4 linked regions of the Homo sapiens genome follow. The protein of the gene in region 4 interacts with the protein of the main gene of each other region in a biochemical or structural test. Each region holds a gene or a part of one and is shown on either strand. Other genes may lie near its edges.

The links.
Region 1: the proteins of CTNND1 (region 4) and ZBTB33 form a complex in vitro, tested with the Homo sapiens proteins (one study listed by BioGRID).
Region 2: of the proteins of CTNND1 (region 4) and PTPRM, one has a biochemical effect on the other in vitro, tested with the Homo sapiens proteins (one study listed by BioGRID).
Region 3: the proteins of CTNND1 (region 4) and CTTN form a complex in vitro, tested with the Homo sapiens proteins (one study listed by BioGRID).

The regions. Positions count from the first base shown.
Region 1 is NC_000023.11:120,246,022-120,253,820, reverse strand, and holds the start of ZBTB33 (transcriptional regulator Kaiso), read right to left. Parts: upstream 3,010-7,799; 5' UTR 2,844-3,009; intron 2,389-2,843; exon of another isoform or gene 2,165-2,388; coding exon of another isoform or gene 2,024-2,164; intron 1,153-2,023; 5' UTR 1,051-1,152; intron 408-1,050; 5' UTR 406-407; coding exon 1-405. UniProt on the Homo sapiens protein: Transcriptional regulator with bimodal DNA-binding specificity.
Region 2 is NC_000018.10:8,403,296-8,407,369, forward strand, and holds the end of PTPRM (receptor-type tyrosine-protein phosphatase mu isoform 1 precursor), read left to right. Parts: exon of another isoform or gene 1-302; intron 303-2,813; coding exon 2,814-2,867; 3' UTR 2,868-3,561; downstream 3,562-4,074. UniProt on the Homo sapiens protein: Receptor protein-tyrosine phosphatase that mediates homotypic cell-cell interactions and plays a role in adipogenic differentiation via modulation of p120 catenin/CTNND1 phosphorylation.
Region 3 is NC_000011.10:70,401,499-70,408,531, forward strand, and holds part of CTTN (src substrate cortactin), read left to right. Parts: intron 1-3,766; 5' UTR 3,767-3,863; intron 3,864-5,799; coding exon 5,800-5,886; intron 5,887-6,019; coding exon 6,020-6,093; intron 6,094-7,033.
Region 4 is NC_000011.10:57,799,775-57,806,807, forward strand, and holds part of CTNND1 (catenin delta-1), read left to right. Parts: intron 1-1,958; coding exon 1,959-2,422; intron 2,423-3,846; coding exon 3,847-4,030; intron 4,031-4,888; coding exon 4,889-5,006; intron 5,007-6,107; coding exon 6,108-6,261; intron 6,262-6,686; coding exon 6,687-6,704; intron 6,705-7,033. UniProt on the Homo sapiens protein: Key regulator of cell-cell adhesion that associates with and regulates the cell adhesion properties of both C-, E- and N-cadherins, being critical for their surface stability.

The sequences.
Region 1 (7,799 bases), on a different chromosome or scaffold from region 4:
AGTATTACCATCCTGCGCTGTACCTGAGATGCTTTTAACCTGTGACAATGGGACACCAAGCTCTGCTATAAATTTCACTCCTAATAACTGCCCTGATTTAATTAACTCATCAAGCAAATCTGATCTAACACGAACAATTTTAGAACTATAGATATAATTGAGAATTTCTGCAAAGATCTCTGCTCTTATAAAGCTCAGTTCAACAACTTGCCCAGCAACAGAGAAGAGCTGATGGAAGTAGGTACTAGAAGCTGAAAGAATATTCTTGTGAGCCCGGAATTTTCGGTCTTCCACAATAACGGTAACATCACAGAAGAGTCCATGGCCACGTTGCTCATTCAAGGAGTTCAGCAGACTGCCAGAGTACTGAATGTCTGTAGCAGAAATCAGTTTTCTACTCTCCATGCCTTTAAGAGAAAGAGAGGAGGGGATGGGAGAGGATTAGAGAGAAAAAACAAAAGTACTTATTTAGAATTTAAGCAGTAGCATCATTAAATAGTTTATTCAAGTTTTAACCAAAGTTCAGCATAATTTTTTGGCTTTTACAGAAATTGTTCATACAGGTTGGCTTTTGGAACAAGTGTCCAATTTCATGGCTTGCTCCTGAGTTGAGCAAGTTTTACATTGTTACAGAGATTTGAACAGTAATCTCCATAGTCACCTTTTTTTGAATATTAGATACATGCACCTCCACTAAGTGATTTTTAAAGATTAGAATTAATTTTCTTAGTCCCAATTTTGGGTTTTCTCTCCAAGAAGAGGTAAGAGTTGACTTTTAACTGTCAAAATTAAGGAAAATCATCATGAACACACAGAAGTTATTTCGCCTGTAAATGATTGAAATGTCAGAAAAGCTCAGCGCGTGCAATACTGTGTCTGAAATACATACTCTTAATTTTAACTAATCTTTAAGAATATATGCAGAATCTACACCCTGGAGCCAATGACATTTATAAACACTGACAATTATTACCTCCCAACGTCCCATTATTTTTCTGTTATTTAAATTGGGGTGCCTCATCTTGATAAACTATTAAACATCTTTCTTACCCTTTCCTCTTTCTTCATCCCCTTGTCCCTTCCCCTCATCTCTCCATCTTTACAATTTCCAGAGGTGGAATGTTAAACAGTGCCAAGTGAAGTCAACAGACACTATCATGAAAAAATATGACAAAGGAAAAGGAAAGTTTACCATTTCTAAATGCCCACTTCCAAGAAAACACGAAACATTTTATTTTTGTTGGTAAAGAATCATATGCATTGGTATGAGAATTTTTTCCACACCAAATGAGTTAGTGAAAATGAAAACATTAACTTATTGGAATAGACTACTCTAGAAAAAGGGGATGATGTCAGTAGAATGCATTGTTGTGTAGCACTAGCAAAACATCATTTTTTGCACTTTGCAGAAGATATTTCCAGTAACAAAGAGGCCAGAGTTTAAAAAAACCCATATATTAAAAATATATAATATCCATACATATTATATATGGATATATTTTAATATATGGATATTATATATTAACAATTAGTTGACAAGTACTTTTAGTGAAGAAATATTTTTATTAATATTCTCTCCCTTTGAAGTTACCAAAAGGGTGTCGATGTCACAATGCTTAAGTTATATACAGGTGGAGGGCAGTTCTGTCTCAAATACCTTCTAAATTTTTCAAAATGATACCTTAAGAACAAACAGCAGGCAAAAAGTCTAAAAATCAAGATTTAAAACATTATTAGAAGGTGTTGCATGTTAACAGTACCAAGGAATTCCAGGTTACCATAAAGGCATTCATCATCAGAAAGGGTGACCTTTGGACAGTTTGCCAAAAACCAGGGCTTCCGAAATACGGGCATTTCGACAGAAGTCGATATTAAGTGGAAAGACAGGTTTTCTGAAAACGGCACGCAATTTTTGTCATTTGCTCCCGGGTTCTTCCAATATGGGAATGCGTCAAATGTACGTGTCCAGGTGACACTGGGACTCGGTTTCGTTTCGTTTATGTGTCCCCCTCCTCCCACTCAGGGTGGCCCCAGAGACAGCACAAGTCGGTCTGAACCCACTCCGAAGATATGCGATTCGACTGTGGAAAAGCCATTCCACATCACTGTGAAACCCTTGACCGAGGGCCAGTTCGGAGGAGCTGGTGACGGTGGAAAGAGATAAAAGCCATCCGCGAGGGAGTGAAACAAACCGACACGCGGCTCCCTGCGGCAGCTGAACCTCATCTCCCTTCCTCCACCTCCCTCTTCCCCATATGGACCCTGCCAGCTGCAACCGAGGTTTTTAACCCCAATTCACGTGCAAAGCAAGCTTCTTGCAAATACAGACGGAGGTACAAACAGCAGAGTGAGGGCGGGAGGAATATGGGGTACCAGGGAAAGTAGAAGGTGGCGAACGGCAGGGTGGGGTGTTGGGGGGGGGATGAAGCGAAGCAGGCGGCATTGTTGTGCCCCGGGAAGGGGACGGAAGGGGAGGATGGGCCTGGCAGAAAAGCTCTAAATCAAAGTAGGGGCTAGGGGAGTAAAAGAGGCACAAAAAAGCAGCGAGAGGGGCGAGGGAAAAGCCAAGTGGGTCTCTGTGATGGATTCCCCAAGCCCCGGGGCCTACCCAGGGCACCGGCAGCCCCTCGGCCCCTAACGGCGAAGGGGACCGCGCCGCGGCCCTCGCGGCTCGTCCCCTCCTTCGCTCCCCGGCCCACACAAAGAAAGAGCCGGAGGAGCTGAGCCTCCGACTCTGCCGCTTCCTGGTTCAAGTGAGGCGAATGCAAACGCAGGCGCGGCCCAGGGACGGAGAAGGCAAGCGCGCTCCTTCGCCCCCTCCCTGATTGGGGCCGGGTCCTCACCTGCTTCCCGGCGCCGCCGCTTCTCCTCCTCCGGACGCGCGGAAGGCTGGGAGTCCCCCAACAAGAAGAAGCCGCACTCCCCAGCGATTCTGCCCCTTCTTTAAACGTCGCTCCAGTCTGGGTCGACGTCGACGCGGCCGCCGCCTCCTGCCGCCAACGCTGCTACAGCTGCCCCACGCCGCCGACAGAGGGCACAGCGCGGGGGCGAAGCGCTGAAGCCAAAGGCGCCCTCCTCTTCCGAGCGCAGGCCGGGGTGGTCCGGAAGGGCCCGAGCTTGAGGCGGCTCCACTTCGGCGCCGTGCTCTGCCTTCGGTTCTTTCCGCAAGGGGGCGGAGGAAGACTGGGAAGCTCTTGTGTGTTCGGCTCTTTCCGGAGGGCTAACGGGTGGGAAAAAAGGAAAGGGAAAGATCGGGTAAGACAGTCGCAAGCAATTGGATGGAAGGGAAGCGAGTCGTTTTCATCGAAATTCAATGTGAACTTCTAGGGCATACAAACTTTTAGAGACTATACAGGTTTCATTTATTTTGCAAGTTTGAATCTGCTCTATTAGACTGTTTGCTAGATGATAAACCATCTTGAAATATAATCAAAATACATACAATCAAATAGAAATTCACAACTTCTTATGGTAATTCAAGTTCTGGGATAACAAGAGAGCAACTACATTACAGTAACTACTTTTAAGAAAGAAATTTAGTGTTTGGACAACTATCTTCTTAATTGAATACTAAATGGTGCAGTACTATGTTAATTCCCTCATTCCAACTAGCATTTACTGACCCCCTGCTTGATCTGTAGCAAAAACCCTATGTTAGGCTCTCGGGAATACAAAAATGAATAACCCAAAGGTCTCTACCTCTTTAGGGAGCTCAGTAGGTAGGTACACAAACATGGACAAAAATATTTGTACAAGGTGTAGAAGCAGAGAGAAGAGAATAGCAAATTGAATGCTGTCATTTGACCTGTATCTTGAAAGATTAATAATATTAACACTTGCATTTTTAATTTTTTATTGTTACTATTTTAATTTTTTATTATTACTATTTCCATAACATTTCATCTTCAGAGGGCTTTAGTGTCTGACACATAGTATGTGTTCAGTGATTGTTTAATGACCGAAAAAATACATTGTGAGTTACATAATTTTTTAAAATCCTCTGGTAATACCCTTCCAACTGAGTACCATAATAAATGAAGCAACAGGATGGGTGTTTGGAGAGCAAAATGTTTCCCTTTTAGGCTGGTTATTGATCGTATTCAACTAAGGAACCAAATAGTAACTTTTTTTCTGCCATAATTAAGGCCATTCACTACCTTCATTATCTTTTTAAAAAGATATATATAGGATAATACTGCATTCATTTCCAAAATCTTAAATTTGTACCTATTAATACCTTGCAGTGGAATTCCTGTGCTTCTTTCCTAAAAAATCTTGCTGAAAATGTCCATCAGGATATTAGACTGAAAACAGATGTAACTATATCTAATTTTCTCTGACAGGAAATCAGACATGGATGTCATCATCTCATCTACCTATCCCTAATCTATTCTTCATCCTCCTCAATAAAGTAAAGCCACATGGTATAATAAAACATCAAAGTGGTATAATATAGCTGTATTTCACATGGAAATATGCAATTCCTTAAGCTCTTCTCCAAGATTTTGTATTGTGGGAAAACAAACTATGTGGGAATTATTGCATTATTGATTTTTGATTAGGACTTAGCATTATGAAAAGTTTCATTGTTTACTATAAAGATATTTCATGGCAAATAGAAGTATGCTGTTGTAAAATAAACTAAGGCAGATTAGTATTTTTCCTGGCAACTGAGTACTTAATAACCATTTTTCTGAGTTATCCTCCCCAAAACTTAGTAGTAAAAAAAAAAATCTTAGTAATTAGAACAAAGTATATCTTGAAAGTTTAGGATCTATTTATCTTTCAGTGGCTTAATTGATGAAAACTAAAATGAGACATATCTTTGAAATACAGATCACAGTGGCAATAGATGCCACTCTAGATATCATGTTTGTTGGTCAGCTCTCAGTAAACTGGAAGGCACAATGCAATTTATTTTGTACCAGCATTTACATCACTGAGGCTGGCAACAGAATTGCCATGCCATTGTCACTTTCCTGAAAGTATTTTAAAAGTTTGGAGTACCAACTAACATATGATGAAACCTGTTCATTCAAAGCACAGTAAACCTTCTCTTCCCTTCTTGCTGTATCTCTCACCCCCTAACCAAGCAAAAACTAAACAAGTTTAAAAGCTACCTATAATGAAAGGGGGTCCAATGGTCAGGAAAGGAATTTTATTTGTAGGAAAGCAGAACAGACCAAGAAGCCTGAGTGGCCTTAATAATTGTCTTTGGGACAGGATCACTGGAAAGTTTAATTAATTTTCTGTTTCTCAACTAGTCATTTCACTTTTACTTTTGTTTTTAATCTGGAGGGCTTAACCCTACTTCAAACAACCCAGTAGTTTGAACTCTATTTCAAACAACAACAACTCACTTTGGGAGGCCGAGGTGGGAGGATCACCTGAGGTCAGAGAACAACCTATATCAAATGGATTTGGAGGTATCAATTGTTTCACATTCTAGAAAGGTTTTATTGGCTGAAAATGGGATGAGTTAGGTTTTATAGCCGTATTGTCAGCGTTTGCTTGCCTTTTGACCTTGATTGTGAATTCCATGAGGGCGGTAACTGTCCTCTCCTGTGTTAAAATGCCAACAATCTTGTGGGTGCTTAATATATATTAATTGATGACAAAAGATAAAGTGACACTCGTTCAGTCTTAGAGCACTTCCTATATGTTATGCTTATGGTTACAGATTTGGTAAGGTCACTCCATGGGATCTGCAGAAACCCTAGTAAGGTAGAGTGGAAGAAACAAAGTCTTAAGCAGAAGATGTGAGTGGGTTGGAATTCTGATACTGCCACTTCCTAGCTCTTTGATCTTATGCCTGATTCTTCATCTGTAAAATAGGGATAATAATACCTTCCCACAGAGTCACTTTGAGGATTAAATGAATCAACTATGCATAGTGTCAAACTGCTCACGGTTTCCAGAATATGCCATGCAATTTACTGCCTTCAAGTCTGAGCCTGGAGCCCTGAGCTTGGAATAGTCATTCCCTTCATAGCCACACCTCGCTTAACCTGTTGTCTGGTTAGTTCCTGGCAAGTGCCTGGTTTTCCATAAAAACCCAACTCAAGTACTAACTTATTTGTGAAGCATCCCTTGGCCCAACAAATTGTAGATAGAGATGGTTGCTTAATGCTGAACGAATGAGTGTCTGGAACCCAGTAAGTGCCAAATATATGTTGCTTTCTCACCACTATCCCCTTTTCTGCTTAATCCCAACAAATCTCTCTTTAAGTGACCTGTCTAATACTGCCTATTGCCCTTTTTTCTTAAAACTTTCCAAAGTCAATTGGATAGGGATATATAACTCTCCTACTGGAAAAGGAGTCGTCGATAATTGCTAACAATAATACAATCTACCAAAAAAAGCAACAGACAGCTTATTCCAAACTTGAACAAAATTGAGGGAATATACTACCTATGAGTCATTTGTGAAAATTACTTGGCAATATATGAAGTCAAATCAAATAAGAAATGAGTCCAAATAAAGAATTAAGAATGGAGATTTTGCAGTAAGCCAATCTATTTAAGTGGAAGACTAAGTCCAAACAACAGATTGATTATGACTATGTGACAATGAAACTTATAAAGCCCGACACTGTAAACTTCATTCATTTTTTCAATACATATTAAACATATATCATTTAGTATTTACTCTGTGCCAGGCAGTGTTGTAGGCAGTGTTGTAGGCACTGTGGATATAATTATCATCAAGTTGAGATATTGGTCTTCATGGAACTTACATTATAATGGAAGAGACATACAATCAACATTTGTATATATATAATATAAATATATAATACAAAAACAGAAAGTAGTAAGTGCTATGAAGAAAAATAGAGCAAAGGGATAGAGAATGATGAGGGTGTTATTGTAAATTGTGTGGTCAAGCACAGCCTCTCTGAAAAGATGATGTATGGCCAAAGAATGGAATGAACTAAGGGAAAGGGCCATATAAATATCTGGGGAAGAACATTTTAGGCAGTGGAATGTGTCATTGCCCTTCAACCAAAGACTACCAGAAACATACCCATAGTTGACAGATTGAGTTTATTACTCTTACTCCAGGGAGGGACAACACACACTATAGGTAACTATGATGTGTTTCAATAAGAAGTTGTTAGAATGAACCTATTATAGGATTTGGACAATTTGGGGGAAGGTCTAGGAATCAGGAGTTCCGTCTCAGATACATCAGAAAGCAGGGGCAATTGTATGATTGCACATTTCAATAAATCTTATTTATAGGGAGGGCAGACTAGAGGGAGGATAAAGCTGTACATTAACTGGCAAAGTAGCAGTGACCTATCTTGGCCAAGAAGGGGTGTTTGGTGTTTTCTGGGTGTCACAGTGAGCTTGTTTTTGTCTGTGCTTAGACAAGCTTATGAAGTGGTCTTGTTTTGTCTCACTTGATCAGGCTCCCAGTGATCTTGTCTTGGGTTGGTGTTCTGTGAGTTTATGTTCAACAAGAGAAGAACATGCCTAATTGTGAGTGCGAGGTCAGTTTGTGGATATCAGGGGCTGCTCCCACTTCCCTTTCTCAAACAGCAAGCGAAAAGCCTTAGAATATAAGGAACAAGGCCGGGCACGGTGGCTCATGCCTGTAATCCCAGCACTTTGGGAGGCCGAGGTGGGAGGATCACTTGAGGTCAGGAATTCGAGACCAGCCTGGCCAACGTGACCAAACCCCGTCTCTACTAAAAATACACAAATTAGCCGAGTGTGGTGGCGGGCACCTATAATCCCAGCTACTTGGGAGGCTGAGGCAGGAGAATCACTTGAACCCAGGAGGTGGAGGTTGCAGT
Region 2 (4,074 bases), on a different chromosome or scaffold from region 4:
ATAAAGCTTTATTGGAATATAATTTGCATGCCATAACATTTCCCCTTTTAGATGGAAATAATAGACACTGGGAACTCCAAAAGAGCAGGGAGGAGAGGGAGGGTTGAAAAATTACCTGTTGGGTATAACATTCGATTGTAATCAGTTTCCAGTGTTTTGCATTCCTACCAGCCGTGTAATGCACTATGAACATTCATTTGGGGGATGAATACCCTAGGAGCCCAATCCCCACCATTACATGTGTAATACCCATGTAATAAACAAGCACATGTACCCCAAATAAAAAAAAATCCCCTTTTAAAGTGTGTCATTCACTGGTTTTCAGTGTATTCACAGAGTTATGCAACCATCACCACAAACCAAATGTTTAACATTTCCATCACCCACTTAGCCCCCTCAAAGAAATCCTAGACCTACTAGCAGCCACTCCCCATTACCCACTTCCAGGCTCTGGCAACCACCCTTCAGCTTCCAGTCTTTATAGATTTGCATGTGCTGGGTGTTTTCATAGAAAAGGAGTGTGTGCCCTTTTGAATCTGATTTCTTTCACTCAGCAGATTCATCCATGCTTCAGTTCATCCACGTTGTAACATGGATTAGTACTTCATTCCTTTTCATAGCCAAGTAATATTCCACTTTATGGCTATACTACATTTTATTGATGTACATTTGAGTTGTTTACCCTTTTTGGCTGTTAGGAATAATGCTCTGTGAACATTTGTTTACAGAGTTTTTGTGTATACGTATGTTTTCAGTTTCCTTAGGTGTACACCCAGTAGTAGAATTGCTAGGTCATATGGGAATTCTGTGTTTAACCTTTTGAGGAGCTGCCAGACGGTTTTCCAAAGTGGCTGCACCGTTTGACATTCCCTCCAGCCGTGTATGAGGGTTCGCTTTCTCCACGCCCTCGCTAACACCTGCGATTTTCTTGTTATGTGAGCCTTCTCGTGAATGTTATTCCACTGACATTAATCTCATGGCACCGTCAGTGATTGAAATGATCTTCTTGTTCTCTGTCTTCGCCTCTGGATCATGACCTTCCCGAGGACTGAATGTGTCATAAAATCCCCAGTCTCTAGCAGTACATGTGTATTGAGTTGGATCACATGCTGCTGGACCCATGGCTTGTCATCATGTGTACATGTAGCCGACTTTGACTCTCAACTGTGTCAGTTCTGGGCTAGAGACTGTTACTTTATACAAAGAGAGATAAACTGTGTCCCTTGTCCTCAAATAAATAGGTTGGACTACTAGGGTATTTACAAAACAGAGTGTAGGTGAAGAAAAGGAAATTTCAGTGACAAATTAGGAGGCACTTAAGAAATACTGGACGTTTTCAATTAATTTGGCAAAATGAAAAGTAATAGATACATTTCCTTGGTTGTGGCTGTGATGGGTAGAGACAGTGGTGCTGAACCTCGCTCACACATGTGAAAGCTTGTCTGCTCCAGAAGTAGAAGAGAGCCTTCCAGTTGCTAAGGCTCTGTCCAGGGCCGGGCTCCTGCCAGGTGGCAGGCAGAGGCTTCCTCAAGCCCTGCGTCCCTCTTCTGGGTTCAGAGACCACTCCCAGGCTTGGTTCTATCAGCACACTCCATGCATACAGGTGCAGAATGCTCTCCCCGGCCACCCGAGACCACACCTCAGCCAGGACCTTGTGCAGAGCTTGCTTGGGCCAAGGTACACGATCCAGGAAAGCTGAGCTCAAGAAAAATGAATCCAATGCTGGATGTGGTGACTCGTGCCTATAATCCCAGCTAATTAGGAGGCTGAGGTGGGAGGATTGCCTGAGCCCAAGAGTTCGAGGCTGTGTTGAGCCATGATTGCACCACCGCACTCCAGCTTGGGTGACAAAGGGCCATGTTTCTTAAAAAGAAAAAAAAAAAAAAAAGAAAGGAGGGAGAAATTAATTCCCTGTCTGATGAAGAACTGGTCTATGGGTCCCAGAGGATCTCAAACATTTCCCCTTCTGTACCTTTCCTCGTCCTGTTGCCTCCGCCTGGAATGCCTGTTTTAATTAACGGGTGAGGATGGCCACGTACTTTATCCAAACTAGGGCACTTTGAGAGTGAAAGAGGGTTATGCCAGGACAACAGGCAGAAGCCAGGACCGTCCAGGGCAAACCAAGGCTGCCTCCACTCCACGCATCAGTTCCGTCCTCTGGGGAAGGCGCTGTCCACTTCCCACTGCCATCTTCCCTAAGAAGACCTGCCGTCCCCTGAGCATAGGGACCATTCCACCTCATGTGTTGTCATTGGGTTACCTGTCTCATCCTCCTCACTGGATCACGGACTTCTCAAAATCAGGGACCAGGTCAAGGGGCTTGGTATTCAGGAGGTGCTTATGAAATTCTCATGAGATTGAGGAATTCCCACAGACTGAAAGTCAAAGGTAAAGCTGGATCATGCATGAGGCCTCATCTAGGTACCAAGGGCCTTGTGAGAGATGTCAGGAAGGCATTTCCTGAAGCACTCGTTACTTTCTCTTCTACCCCTGACCCTCCTGCACAAAGCTCAGCATGTTGATATCCTGGAAAATACATGTGTGGACAAACATATTTAGAGTTCCAAGTGTCCAGAACCTTCCGGGAATTCTAGCCAGCACAGGTAGCAAAATACCTTCCACCCAGCATTGTGGGGAGCATCTCCAAACAGTGAATGTATCTGGAGTTCAGAACCGTGACTTTCTGATTCATTTCTAATTCAAATCCTCCCAGATTGATGTCTTCCCATTAAGACCCTACTCTATGGTAATTGCTTTACTAGGAACAGCGTTGAGATATTCTTGAGCTGACACTTTCCCCTCCTGTTTTCCAGGATCAGTACAAGTTCTGCTACGAGGTGGCCCTGGAATACTTGAATTCTGGCTGATGGTGTAAACAGCTCTGCAAACAATCCCTTTCATACCACAAAGCCAAGACGTTCCATGGTATTTGTGCAAAAGAGATGAAGACTTCTCAATATGCTTATTTTGCTTTGCATAATTGGCTCTTTTTAAGAGCCCAAGAAAGTGTTTCTAAAATTGCTTGCACTGCCCAATCCCAGTAATGCTGCTGCCTGACAGAAACACACACACAGCCACAGTTGCCAAATCCCGTACTCCTTGCCACCGGCTTCCTAGAGCAGCGTAGACAGCTGGTAAACTGAAGAGCACAACTATATTCTTATGAAGGAATTTGTACCTTTGGGGTATTATTTTGTGGCCCGTGACCCTCGTTATTGTTACAGCTGAGTGTATGTTTTTGTTCTGTGGAGAATGCTATCTGGCATTATGGTAATATATTATTTTAGGTAATATTTGTACTTTAACATGTTGCATAATATATGCTTATGTAGCTTTCCAGGACTAACAGATAAATGTGTAATGAACAAAGATATGTTGTATGAGTCGTCGTTTCTGTCAGATTTGTATTGTTTCCAAGGGAAAAGCTTGGGGGAGGACTCAGTTCACAAAATGCAAAACTCAACGATCAGATTCACGGACCCAGAGCTTTTCCATGTGTTTATATTGTAAATATTTTTGATTTCATCAAATTATTTATTCATTAAAAGAAATTTTTGTGAAGCACAGTGAGTGACAATCATTTTTCTTAAGGCCTGGAAACGATTTTCTGTATGATGTTACTTTATGTGAATTCTCATCTCAATAAATGATGACCCGTGAGCAGCCGTGGCATGTTCCTGGTGTCCCAGTGCACAGGCGGTGGAGGCCGCACCCGACACGCCAGCACACAGGGGGAGAGAGTGCGGCCGGGGCCTGTTTGCCGGAGCAAGTAGAGTAGAGTTTTTTTGAGAGAGAGTGTTCGTCAGTGAGAGCACTGAGCCCTTCACGGTGGCCTGCCCTGGTGCCGGGGAGGCTCAGCCATGAGCCTGCACCATGGGGCGTGAGCCCTGACCTTGTGGGGCAGCCAGGCCAGGGGCCATGGCAGAGACTTGCTAACTGGAGCATCGTCTTCCTTTCTCTGTTTCCCCTCAGTCTGCGGGGGATAATATCTCTCTTCTCTATGCCTCAGGCCAACCTAAGACTTGCTGAGAGAACAGTTTTTAAAGGGTTAGAGAATCAGAGTGCATTGAAGGA
Region 3 (7,033 bases), about 13 Mb from region 4:
TTAGCTGGGTGTAGTGACAGGTGCCTGTAGTCCCAGCTACTCAGGAGGGTGAGGCAGGAGAATCGCTTGAACCCAGGAGGCAGAGGTTGCGGTGAGCTGAGATCACACCATTGCACTCCAGCCTGGGCAACAGAGTGAGACTTCGTCTCAAACAAAAAAAAACAAAAAAAAAAAGAGAGAGAAAAATCAGCTTGGTGTGGTGGTGCATTCCTGTAGTCCTAGCTACTCGGGAGGCTGAGGTGGGAGGATCACCTGAACCTGGGACACAGAGGTTGCAGTGAGCTGAGATTGTGCCTCTGCACTCTAGCCTGGGCCACAGTGCAAGACCCTGTCTCAGAAAAAAAAAAGAAAAAAAAGGCTGGTGGGGGGCTTTTAGGCGCGGTGGTTCGTGCCTGTAATCCCAGCACTTTGAGAGGCTGAGGCTGGCAAATCACTTGAGGCCAGGAGTTGGAGATCAGCCTGGACCAACATAATGAAACCCCATCTCTACTAAAAATACAAAAAATTAGCTGGGTGTGATGGCGCATGCCTGTAATCCCAGCTACTCGGGAAGCTGAGGCAGGAAAATCACTTGAACCTGGGAGACAGAGGTTGCAGTGAGCCGAGATCGCGCTGTTGCACTCCAACCTAGGCAACAGAGCAAGACTGTCTGAAAAAGAAAAAAAAAGTTATTGTGTAGAGGAATTTTTCACTCTGTCTAGACAGCAAGATTACTTCACGTTTGTGCAATCTTGATTTGTACACTGACGTTTGCAAGGAAGGTTTAATGTTGAGGATGGACAGAGTCATTATCTTCTTTTGAACCGTATTGTAACAGCTTTATCGAGATATAATTCACATACCATACAATACGCCTGTGTAGTGTGTACTCTCCACTGGTTTTTAGTATCTTCATGCAGTTGTACAACTGTCACCACAGTCAATTTCAGAATAATTTTATCACCTCAAAAAGAAGCCCTTGTACCTTTTAGCCATGACCTCCCTATCCTCACCACCACCATCCGCCCAGCCCTGGGCAACCAGCAATGTATCTTTTGTCTCTGTAGATTTGTGAACTCCAGACATTTCCTAGAAATTGAATCGTATAATATGTGGTCTTTTGTGCGTGGTTTTCCTTTGCGCAATGGATTTGAGGTCCCTCCACGCTGTAGCAGGTGTCACTGCTGGATCCTCTTTGTGGCAGAATAAAATGCCTTTGTGTTAGGTAGACCACATGTTATGTATCTATCAGTTGATGGACATTTGGAGTGTTTCTGTTTTTTGGCTGCTATGAATAGTGCTGTTCTGAACACTCACGCACAAGTTTTTGTGTGCTTATACTTTATTTCTCTTGGGCATAGACCTAGGAGTGGAGTTGCTGAGTCATACAGTACCTGAGTTTAACCTTCTGAGGAACTGCCAGACCTTTTCCATTTAACATCCCTGTCAGCAGTCTATGAGGCTTCCAGTTTTTCAACACTGTTGCTGAGATTTGTCATTGGCTGTTTTATTTTAGTCATCCTAGTGGGTATGAGGTGGGTTCTCATTGCAGTTTTGATTTGCATTTCCTTGGTGGTTAATGACATTGAACAAACTTTTCCTGAGCTTGTTGGCCATTTGTATATCTCCTCTGAAGAAATGTCTCTTCAGATCCTTCAATCATTTTTAAATGGGGTTATTCGTCCTTTTTATTGAATTATAAGAGTTCCTTTTTTTTTTTTTTTTTTTTTGAGATGGAGTCTCACTCTGTCGCCAGGCTGCAGTATAGTGGCGCAATCTCGGCTCACTACAGCCTCTGTCTCCCGGGTTCAAGCAGTTCTCCTGCTTCAGCCTCCCAAGTAGCTGGGACTACAGGCATGCGTCACCACGCCCTGTTAATTTTTGTATTTTTCGTAGAGACGGGGTTTCACCATGTTGGCCAGGATGGTCTCGATCTCTTGACCTAGTAATCCGCCCGCCTCGGCCTCCGAAAGTGCTGGGATTACAGGCGTGAGCCACCTCACCTGGCCAAGAGTTCTTTATATATTCTGGATCTACAGTTCAAAATACTTTTCTCTCAGGATCGTCTTGTCACCTTCTTGATGAAGCACAAAATTTTTAATTTTGTACAATTTATTTTTTTCCTCTAGTGTTTTGGTGTCATATCTAAGAAACTATTGCCAAATTCAAAGTCACAAAAATTTACACCCTTTTAGGATTTTAGTTCATTTTTGAGTTAATTTTTCTGTATGGTTTTGAGGTAGGGCTCTAGAGGCTTTTTATCTTTGGATCCACAAAACAATCAAACTTATTTCCTATTGGTTATTTTTGTGATTGTTTTTTAAATTTCCAATATTGAGAGTATAAAATTGTGGATCTGAGCCTATCCTTAGCTGCTCATGAGTAGATTTTTATTATTTACTTTATGATTGATTTATGTATGAGACAGGGTCTCTCTCTGTCTCCCAGGCTGGGGTGCAGTGGTGTGATCATGGCTCACTGCAACCTTGAGCTCCTGGGCTCAAGCAGTTCCCCCACCTCAGCCTCCTGAGTAGCTGGGACTACAGGTATACACGACCATGCCTGGCTAAATTTTTAGGCAGAGTTGTATAGATGCTTGCCGATTACACTAATAACTGCAGTAACCAGAATGTAGCAAGCAATCTGTAGAAGTTAGGATTGCCGAAGGGAACTGGGGAGAGAGATGGAGCAAACAGTTGGGTCAGAAACCAGATAGGAAATTAATTAATTACCAGGAGGGCCAGCCAGGCACCATCCCCTAGTTCCTAATGCGTGAGAAACCACTCTGCCTGTGACCGGCTTGTTCCTAGGGACAAGGGGATTTCATTCGTCCATGTGTGTTGTCTAGCAGTATGGTGTCCAGTTGAGGCTGATGTGTGGTCCTAGGGAAGGGGTCGTGTGCTTGGCCACCCTCTGGGGAGCTGGAGTCTTGCTCCCTGCGCGGTAACCGTGTACGTTCATTAGGAATGCAGCCCGCCTCCTCCTCGGCTCTCCAGCTGCCAGTCTCATGTCTTGATAGACAGTCACCATACTGGTTTTTCCTCCCGGCCATATCATGATCCTCTCAAGGAGTGTTTTTCTTATATTATTGTTTTAAAAAGCTCACAGTAACAATTTTATTTTATAATGTCATTAATTAGAATGAATAAAAAGTGAAAATCTCTAAGAATTATGGCAAACAGTAAATGCATACTAGCAATTAAGGCAATAATTTCTGTTTGCATTCATAAGAAACATCATGTAGGCCGGGCGCCATGCCTCACACCTGTAATCCCAGCACTTTGGGAGGCCAAGGCAGGCGGATCACCTGAGGTCGGGAGTTTGAGACCAGCCTGACCAACATGGAGAAAACCCGTCTGTACTAAAAATAGAAAATTAGCTGGGCGTGGTGGCGCCTGCCTGTAATCCCAGCTACTTGGGAGGCTGAGGCAGGAGAATCACTTGAACCCGGGAGGTGGAGTTTGCGGTAAGCCGCGATTGTGCCATTGCACTCCAGCCTGTGCAACAAGAGTGAAACTCCATCTCAAAAAAAACAAAACAAAAAAGACAAAAAGTCATCATGTAGTTAGAAATCTTTTAAAACTTATTTCTTTAGTTTCTCTCTGTTGAACTTTTTTATTAGTAAAATGCAAGTCTTCCCATCCTCCTCTCAGATTTCATTACAAAACCTTGTTACGTTTGGGAAGATTTCTGAAGTTTTCTAAAAAGATCTCCACACAGAAGGGTTTGCCCAGGGAGCTGCTCAACATACATCCTTCTCAGCTTTTTACCCTTAATCTTTTTACAGACGGAATCAGTCCCCAATGCCTGGAAATTCCTCATTGGATTACTGTGTTTTAAACAGAATTTCGTGAACAGCCTTTTATCTCCAAGCGGAAAGAAAGGTACTTGTGCATTGTGAACATCCTAACATTCTTTTCCTGTGGATGGTAAGGGCAAAAATCCCTTTAACAGGAAACGGGGGAGGTTGCTGTTTCTGTGGATTTACTGGGAGAGAGATGATAATATTCTGGAAGGAAATTTCATTGTTTAAAAAATAAAGTCAGGTTTCTGTTGCATATGACTTAGAGGAGACAATTGCAGAAAACTCTGGAATTGAGGAAGAGAACCATTCCTGTCCTCCCTGAGGGGAAATCTGGCCCCTTCCCCACCCCATGAACATGGGTGGGGCCCCCAGGCACAGGATTGTGAAGCTCGCAAGTGCCCACCCCGCTCGCTGGTGAAGCTGTGTCCGGGAAGATGAGCAGAGACTGTGCTCTGCTAATCTCTCCCCGATGAGCCTGAAAAAGTACCAGGCAAAGACACCTGCCGCCTTTCTCCTTTGCCTTGGGGGTGAAGGTGGCCTCGCCAGCCCTGCAGGGACTCCCATCCTTTCTTGCAGCCACCTTCTCAGTGGTGGGAACCATGGGCAGCTGAAGTCCTGCAGGCGGGCAGCCCCCTCGCCAGGGCAGCATGGTGCCATGGGGCGGCCGGAGACCAAGCATCCCGTTTCTCTTTCCTGCAGCCGTTGCTTCATTTATAAATGGGCGCGTTGGGACAAGATGGACTGGTTGTGCCTTTCCGTTCTGAGATTCTAGTTCATCTGTTTTCTAAAATCCTGGCAAAAGCAGATCACTCTGGAAATTCTTGCCATGCTTTGGGCATTGACAGAAGGTTCCAGGGGCACTGTTAGTCCTGCTACACCCCTTGGCAGACGGTTCTTCCCCAAGAGACAAAGTCGCACCTAGAAATTTGAGAGCACGCTGCCCTGATTGGTCCCTCACTGTCACATTGGATTTGGACTTGAGACCCAGCCAGGCTGGAGGGAGAGGAGCCAGATGGGACATTCTCAAGCTGCGAAGGGGTTTTGTCCAGTCCTGATTCAGGGCGCTAGAGTCCCAACATGGCACCTGAGAAAAAGTGAATTGGGTGTCCTCAGTTCAGACCCCTGGGCACAGCTTATGGTTGTTTGATTTAAAATAATCTCTCAGTTGCTCTGTGGCCTATGTGTAATTGTATTACTATTTCTGTGGAAAAGGAATCACTTCTTTTTATACATAGTTTGAAAAAAAAAAAAAAACCTTAAAATTTTATATTTTACCACTGCAGTTACAAGAATTGTCTTGTTAGGGTTTACAGATGTGCCATTGTTCTGTATAACAGAGAAAACCTTCCAGTCTTCAAGGGCTGAGGGAGAAGGTGGCTGCCCACTTGCAGAGCTGCCTGATAGAGGAAAAGGTGGCATTTTATATTCCTGTTTTCTTCCAAGTAGAGAGTAAAGCAATTCTCCAATAAACTACTTGAAACATTTATTAAATTGTAAGTCTGAATTAGGAAAATTATTGTTATGGTTTCAGTAAGCACTTGAAATCAAAATGGGTGCACTTTTTAAAAATGTGTGATAAAATACACATACCATGAGATTTACCATTAGTAACATTTAGTATATTTATAATACATAATCCAAAATGGTGCTTTTATTTTTGGTTGGAAACTATCATCATATGATTGAACAGAACAGGAATATGTTCTTAATGAATAAATAAGTGCACACACGACTTTTTTATTTTCCAGAAAATTTTCTCACTCAAGGTGAAGCCAAATAGTATTTCCAGTATATTTCTGACGTCAGGTGACGGCAGTGTTAGAACCCCGAGGTGAAATTTCTTTTACTCCTGTGGTTGTCAGTCAGGCTTATGGATCATGAAGGATTGGCTGGTCCTGCAGCCTCGTCCTCCTGGGTTGCCTAGAATCTCGGTAGTTTTGGCCAAAGGGCTCATCTGCTGGCCTCTGTGGATGGCGCCCTGAGGCCTCCGTAACCCTCCCCGGCTGCTCTTTCAGATGTGGAAAGCTTCAGCAGGCCACGCTGTGTCCATCGCCCAGGATGACGCGGGGGCCGATGACTGGGAGACCGACCCTGATTTTGTGGTAGGAGCCGCCAGCCTTTGCTTTCCTCTTTCATGAAGTGGAAGTGGCTCTCCTGGGTTTTTCTTTGATGGGGTGGTGGTTTGTCTGTGTCACAATCCAGGCTGTGAGATTTACTGGTCGCTTTTCTTTTCAGAATGATGTGAGTGAGAAGGAGCAAAGATGGGGTGCCAAGACGGTGCAGGGCTCCGGGCACCAGGAGCATATCAAGTAAGAGGCGTCGCCACCACCCTCCCGAGGGCCCCTCTGCGGATGGAGCCCCAGGTGCAACAGGGCCCATGGTCATCTGTGGAGGGACAGCCCGTGTGGAAACTGCATTTATCTTCTTGACCTGATACCCATGCAGTAAATGAATATAAGACACACACATATATGTGTATTTGTGTAATGTGTGTGTTTATATGTGTATATTTAGATACTTCTGTGCTCAGTAATTTTTAAATTCCCATTGCAAACAATTTCCGTATTTATAATTTTAGAGTGTCCGCTTCTCAGTATTGTGGCTTTTATCAGGGAACATTTGTCCCTAAGCTCTACCTTACAAGCGAGAGGTTTCTAAAGTATGAGATGTCTGAATAACTGAGACCTTAAATGCCCTGTCCCTTTTTTTATTATCTGGAAATGATTATGTGTTAATAGTGAGGTACTGTGAGCTTTGTGTTCTTATCGAAAGCCCAGAGTTGGGCACTGAGTGAACCCTGTCATTGTTTCTCACTTGGCACTATCTAAAATGCCAGCTCTTGGGGCAGTTTTTTTTTTCGTCAGAAAGTGTAGATAAAAGGAACTTTTAAAATATGCTCAGACTTTTATTTTAGGCCACGCTGGGTTCAGAGTGGATCCTCCTTTCCCTGGCTGTGAAGGCAGCACCACTGACCCGGTGACCGCCTCAGTATCCCGGGAAGACTGTCCCGCTTGACCACGGTCCCTTCAGCTGAGAAAGATTTAGTCCTTCCTCCAGAAAAGAAGGCACAGCCTGCACAATGGCTTTTTATTTTGTTGTTAAAGATTTATTTATTTATTTATTTATTTATTTTGAGACAGGGTCTCACTCTGTCACCCAGGCTGGAGTGCAGTGGTGCAATCATAGCTCACTGCAGCTTTGACTTCCTGGGTTCAAGCGATCCTCTCACCTCAGCTTCCTGAGTAGCTG
Region 4 (7,033 bases):
ATGTTCAATACAGAGCCTGAAAAACCCAGAAAAGCATTACCATCTATTGATAAAGAACCACTGTTAACATTTTGGTGCATATCCTTTGAGTTTTTTTAATTATACATGTAACTATATCCTATTTTCCCTCTACTAAAATGGAATCTTAACATACTGCTTAATAGCCTACTTTTAAGCTATCTAAGCTATTCATTTTGTTTCCGTGTTTTTTTTTTTTTTTTTTTTTTTTTTGAGATGGAGTCTTGCTCTGTCACCCAGGCTGGAGAGCAGTGGTGCGATCTGGTATTATACCCAGGAGGCTTTTTGTTCCATGCATGGTATTTTATAATGTTAGTAAATACTTTTCCTTAATTTTATAGTAAGCAGAAAATTTTTATGGTTGGGGTGGATGCAAAAGTGATACATAATAGTTTAGAAGACAACCAATTTTGTTTTACCAGCTGTTTGGGCATTTTTAGTACCCCCTTCTTGATTTGAAGGGTTTAATCTTGACCTTTTTTTTTTTTTCTTCGAAATAGAGTCTCGCTCTGTCACTTAGGCTGGAGTGCAGTGGCACAATCTCAGTTCACTGCAACCTCCACCTCTTGGGTTCAAGCGATTCTCTTGCCTCCGCCTCCCAAGTAGCTGGGATTACAGGTGCCCACCACCATGCCCAGCTAATTTTTGTATTTTTAGTAGAGATGGTGTTTTTCCATGTTGGCCATGCTGGTCTCGAACTTCTGACCTCAGGTAATCCGCCCACTGCAGCCTCCCAAAGTGCTGGGATTACAGATGTGAGCCACCATGCCTGGTCCTGTTTCCGTGTTATTTTAAGACCATCTTGGTCATGGTTTACTAAATGCTTTGTCCATCTGAATCACTGTTGCATAGTTGATGTTGATACCTGTGAGGCAGGCCTTCTGCTCAGGGCAACCTTGAGTATTTGTTGACAGTGGGAGTGGTTTTGTAGAACAAACAATGGCTTATTTGGAGAGCTCCACACAATAGATTATCCTCTCCTGTGGGAGCCAGAAAGAGATGAGCTCACAGATAATGGGTTTCTTCCTTCCTGGTAGTTACGAATAAATAATAGTGTGACAGACTCACCCTCTAGTGGTTGTTGGTAGTACTGAAACAGGAAGAATTGTCTCCTGGTTTGATTTTTCTTACTTTCAATTGCTTTCTCTGTTCCTAGTGGCTGGGCTTCCCAAATGTGATGTTGGTGAATAGGCTTCATTTTGAAAGAGCTGGAGGTATTGTCTTTAGAAATTGGAGGATGGAATCTTACCTCTTAACACATTTGTTGAGTAGCAGACATGACCTTGGAATGACTGTGAAAATTACTTTTCAAGTTTATACCTCATCAGTACCAAAGCCAGATCCTCCTGTGATGTAGCAGGAAGCCCTTTATTAGTTTTTCTCTATCAATCCATCTTTTATAATTTCCAAAATAGGATAAGGAGAAGCTTAAATATGAAATGTATTTAAAGGTCTTATCCTACCAGTTGTTTCCTGTGTGTAAATGCCTAATTTCCTGTTTGGTTAAGGAACTGTTCTCAGACTTCTGTGGCATTGAGTCAGTTGCTTTGGTTAATTCTGTTCTCTGAGAGTTTATCCTGATCTCTACCTAGACAAGTTAATAACTGTCAGATATCATTCAAATAAATGATAAGTAGTAAGGATTTGGTTCTTTCTTTTTGATTAGCCTTTCCTGAATGCTTGTTACTTTCTAAGCCTGCAGACTTCAAAGAAAAAAATGTAGTTTTAATTAAATTGCAGGTGTTTTTAAAATTATTACCTTTTATTTTTACTAACCCATTGAGGAAAATTGATCAGTATATTATTCATGCAAAGGAGAGATAAGATGAGCACACTGAAACTCCAGTTAATCCTCCTTTGCAGATGAGGGTAATGGGAATGTCCAGGAAGCTAGCCATAATGACTTGATGTATTCTCTTGGTTCTTCCAAAACTTCTCAGGAGCTATGAAGACATGATTGGTGAGGAGGTGCCATCGGATCAATACTACTGGGCTCCTTTGGCCCAGCATGAGCGAGGAAGTTTAGCAAGCTTGGATAGCCTGCGCAAAGGAGGGCCTCCACCTCCTAATTGGAGACAGCCAGAGCTGCCAGAGGTGATCGCCATGCTTGGATTCCGCTTGGATGCTGTCAAGTCCAATGCAGCTGCATACCTGCAACACTTATGCTACCGCAATGACAAGGTGAAGACTGACGTGCGGAAGCTCAAGGGCATCCCAGTACTGGTGGGATTGTTAGACCATCCCAAAAAGGAAGTGCACCTTGGAGCCTGTGGAGCTCTCAAGAATATCTCTTTTGGACGTGACCAGGATAACAAGATTGCCATAAAAAACTGTGATGGTGTGCCTGCCCTTGTGCGATTGCTTCGAAAGGCTCGTGATATGGACCTTACTGAAGTTATTACCGGTGAGTTCTAGGCCTAAGGAAAATTGCTAAGTCAGTGTTACTCTCTAGTGATGTTGAGAACTAGAGGGATTTCCAGACCTTTTACTTTTGATGAAAGGTTGTGAACTGGTGGCTGTGGGTCAAATCCATCTCACAGATTTGTTTGGATCACACAGCATTATTGAAATTTTAAAGAACTGGTTGCTGATGTTTAAAATTCAGAAGATTTCACTTAAAATTCCAGATTCTTGGCTTCTATTAAAAACGTGGAAGAGTTGTTAACAATGGATCTCTTTTCTTCCTTAGCAGTATTTGGTCTGAACTGATTGGAGCATGTGCTCTCTAATTTACACTAATCTCCAACACATTCTATTATCTGACCAACTACAGCTGTTTAGGAAGTTGTTTCCCAAACATGGAGCTGTCAACTGCTATTTTTTCACATGCTTGTAATTTCTTTTAATTATCTTCCTCTCTTGACTCACCGGCTTGACCCATATAGACATTTAAGCTTGTGGTTCTTGCTTTATTTAGAGCAGTAGTTTTTCAGATTGTGGGTTGTGATCTATTTGTGTGATCCGTTAGTGAATAAAACAAAATTTTGTGGAGCATAATCAGCATTCCAAGGGAAAGGAATAAAGAAAAAGTAGTATAGACCATTGTTTCTCAGTTGTGGGCCATTTTGCCTGCCCTGCCCTGAGGACATTTGGACATTTGCAGTGTTGGAGATATTTTTGGTTGTTATAACTTGGAACAGGGGAGAGGGAGTGCTACTGGCATCTAGTGAGTAAAGGCCAGGGGTACTGGTAAACATCCAACAATAGACAAGACAGCTCCTCATAACAAAGAATCATCTGGCCGAAAATGTCAGTGGTGCTGAGGTTGAAAAACTCTGGTATAGACAGATCGGAGAGCATTGAGCATTGCTTATAGTTTTGTTTGTTTTTTTTGAGATGGAGTCTCGCTCTGTCACCCAGGCTGGAGTGCAGTGGCACAATCTCAGCTCACCGCAAGCTCCGCCTCATGGGTTCACGCCATTCTCCTGCCTCAGCCTCCCAAGTAGCTGGGACTACAGGTGCCCGCCACCACGCCCGGCTAATTTTTTGTATTTTTAGTGTTAGCCAGGATGGTCTTGATCTCCCAACCTTGTGATCCGCCCGCCTTGGCCTCCCAAATTGCTGGGATTACAGGCGTGAGCCACCACACCCAGCCTGAGCGTTGCTTATAGTTAAACATTGTTTGTTTCATGATCTGTATGTTTATTTTGAGCTATAATGTAGAATATGTTTCTTGGTGAGGGTCGCAAACAAAGCTTGAATATTACTATAAGGTATTTGGTCACTGGGGAAGACTGAGAAGTGATACGATAGGGGGATTCTCTTTGACGTTCTTCAGACATATTGTCTTGAATGCTCAAGAGCCATCTGATGAATTGTCTCTTCCAGGAACCCTGTGGAATCTTTCATCCCATGACTCAATCAAAATGGAGATTGTGGACCATGCACTGCATGCCTTGACAGATGAAGTGATCATTCCTCATTCTGGTTGGGAGCGGGAACCTAATGAAGACTGTAAGCCACGCCACATTGAGTGGGAATCGGTGCTCACCAACACAGCTGGCTGCCTTAGGTAACAGTAGGGACTTTGAGAATATGAAGATGAATTTTTGAGGACTGACTTAAATTTCCTAAAAAAAAAAAAAAATTAAAATTCTTTAGCCTATTCTTTAGCCTCCATTCCTATCTGTATTGCATACTGTAACTCCAACCTTTCTATCTTTGTTGCTATTCTCTCATGTATACCACATGTACCTATATCAGTTTTCTTGCTGTTCCCCACACATCCTCTTCACTTTTATGCCTCTTTGACTTTGTTCATCTACTTTGGTAAGCTTTTGTTCAGCATCTACCACATGTAAGGTGGTCTAGTCCTGGACTTGTGTGTGTCTATGTCCTTGCCCTAGTTATTTGTATTTCAAGTCAGGCTGTGATAAATTCAGCAAAAGGGGTACAGAGTACTAGGAGGTTAGGGCATGGGTGAGGAAGGTCTGTTCTTTCTGTGATGCCTTTCTCTTCTTATTTATCTTTTTGTGGTTAAACTCAAGTGCCTTTATTTTATTAAAGTTTTCCTGAATTCTTTTTATATCCTATAAATGCTGCTATATAATCTTTCTCTCTTTGGAATACACCTCTGTGTGCTGTGTTCCATTCTACATATGTATTATATACTTCCATACGAGAAGTATATATTCCATCTTGAATTACTGCATCTGGTACATATCATTAATCCCTACCCCACAGTGATATAAACATTCAGAAGGCAGGGACTGTTAATCAACTTTCTCTCAACTGCAGTACCTTGCTTATAATAGGTATTTACTATTACAGTGAGTAGAAAAACATATTCAGGAATCTTGTAGGTGTTGAGGGATATTTAAGGGAGGATTTCTGGATTTGAGTCATCTTGAAGCTTCTGGTTTCCCCTCAGGAATGTAAGCTCAGAGAGGAGTGAAGCTCGCCGGAAACTTCGGGAATGTGATGGTTTAGTTGATGCCCTCATTTTCATTGTTCAGGCTGAGATTGGGCAGAAGGATTCAGACAGCAAGGTAAGTGCTGTCTTACCTTTAATGGCTGAGTGAATTTCATTCACCACAACTATGAAGTATCTGTAGGTCAGAGACCTATCATCTCAGGCTTTCAAGTAACATTAAATATTTATACTGTCCCCTACCCCTTATTTTTGAGACAGAGTCTTGCTCTGTTGCCCAGCCTGGGGTGCAGTGATGTGATCTCAGCTCACTGCAACTTCTGCTTCCTGGGTTCAAGCGATTCTCATGCCTCAGCCTCCCAAGTAGATGGGATTACAGGCGTGTGCCACCACACCCAGCTAATTTTTGTATTTTTAGTAGAGACGGGGTTTCACCATGTTGGCCTGGCTGGTCTCAAACTCTTGACCTCACGTGATCCCCCTGCCTCAGCCTCCCAAAGCATTGGGATTACAGGCGTGAGCCACTGTGCCCAGCCAAGCCCTTACTCCTTAAAGTGGGTATTCAACTTAAAACATGTTTTTTGTTTGTTTGTTTGTTTTTTTGAGATGGAGTCTGGCTCTGTCCCAGGCTGGAGTACAGTCCCGTGATCTCGGCTCATTGCGACCTCTCCCTCCTGGGTTCAAGCAATTCTCTGCCTCATCTCCTGAGTAGCTGGGATTACAGGCACCTGCCACCATGCCCGGCTAATTTTTGTGTTTTAGTAGAGACAGGGTTTCACCAGGTTGGTCAGGCTGGTTTTGAACTCCCGACCTCAGGTGATCCACCCGCCTCGGCCTCCCAAAGTGCTGGGATTACAGGTGTGAGCCACTGTGCCCGGCTTTTTTTTCTTTTTTTTTTAAATCTGTCACCTATGTATTTTAAAGCTGCTTAGCTGTCTTCCAAAATTGTACATTGTCTAAGTAGTAAGAATGATGATCCAATTTCAGTCACACACCAAATAGTGGCAGAAGCCAATAAGTCCATAGTTGGACCTTCCATTAGCCTGAGGCTACCGGGATTTCAAGAAGCCTGGAGCACTTAAGAGGCATCCTGAGAAGTTATGGATTGGGTTATGCATTTGAAGATCAACATTTTAATACCTGAGTCATGGAAACCTGTACTTGTGGAGAAATCACAATAGACATTCTTTTTTCTCATTGGCCCTTTTATGTCCCTAAGCTTGTAGAGAACTGTGTTTGCCTTCTTCGGAACTTATCATATCAAGTTCACCGGGAGATCCCACAGGCAGAGCGTTACCAAGAGGCAGCTCCCAATGTTGCCAACAATACTGGGCCACATGCTGCCAGTTGCTTTGGGGCCAAGAAGGGCAAAGGTGAGTCTTGGTTCCTGTTTCTTAGTCTTTAATGTGGGATAGGGAAAGGAAGGAACACTTTAGCTTAAGGTACAAAATACTTGGCAACAGTATGGGAGTCTGCCTGGTTATGGATGTCTTTTTGGTTTGCTGCTTTCCCTGTGTTGTGTGCTTCATTCAAGGTGTGGTGATGGGATGGTGGTTGTGATGTGTTGGTGGTGGTGGTGGTGGTGGTGGTGGTGGTATCAATGAGTGGGGCAGTGGAAAATGAGAACTCAACTAATCTGGGACCTTCTTCCCCATACGTCCTTTGCATTTTCTGTGTTTTTCTTTTCTTCTCTGTGCTTCCCTGCTTATTTGCCCATGATTCTGCTGACATCTTTCTCCTGCATTTTTCTTATTTCATTTCTCTTCTCTGCTTTCTACCTTGGGTGATGCACTGGAAGATGAGTGGTTCTCCAGAGGTGAGTGGAGTCTTTTAAGGTGCTTATCTACTTCTAATTTGCATGTTTTGATTTTAGCTTCCCTAGTATGTCCTTGCCTAACCTTTCCCTGTCTATGCATGTAGGAAAGTTCAGTTGAGGAAGACACTGAAACAAGTTTAGCTCTTTGGAGCTAATAGCTCACGGCATGCTGTTTCTGGGCAGCAGTCCCCATTATCAGAACTCAGGACAATAGCATCAACAGTGGTCATCCTCATCTTACCTATCTGCTGCCTGTTTTCTATCCTTGTTTCTGAATAGTCCCCTGCTGGAACAAGTTGCCCTCACCTGCCCCTTTTCCCCTCGTGGTG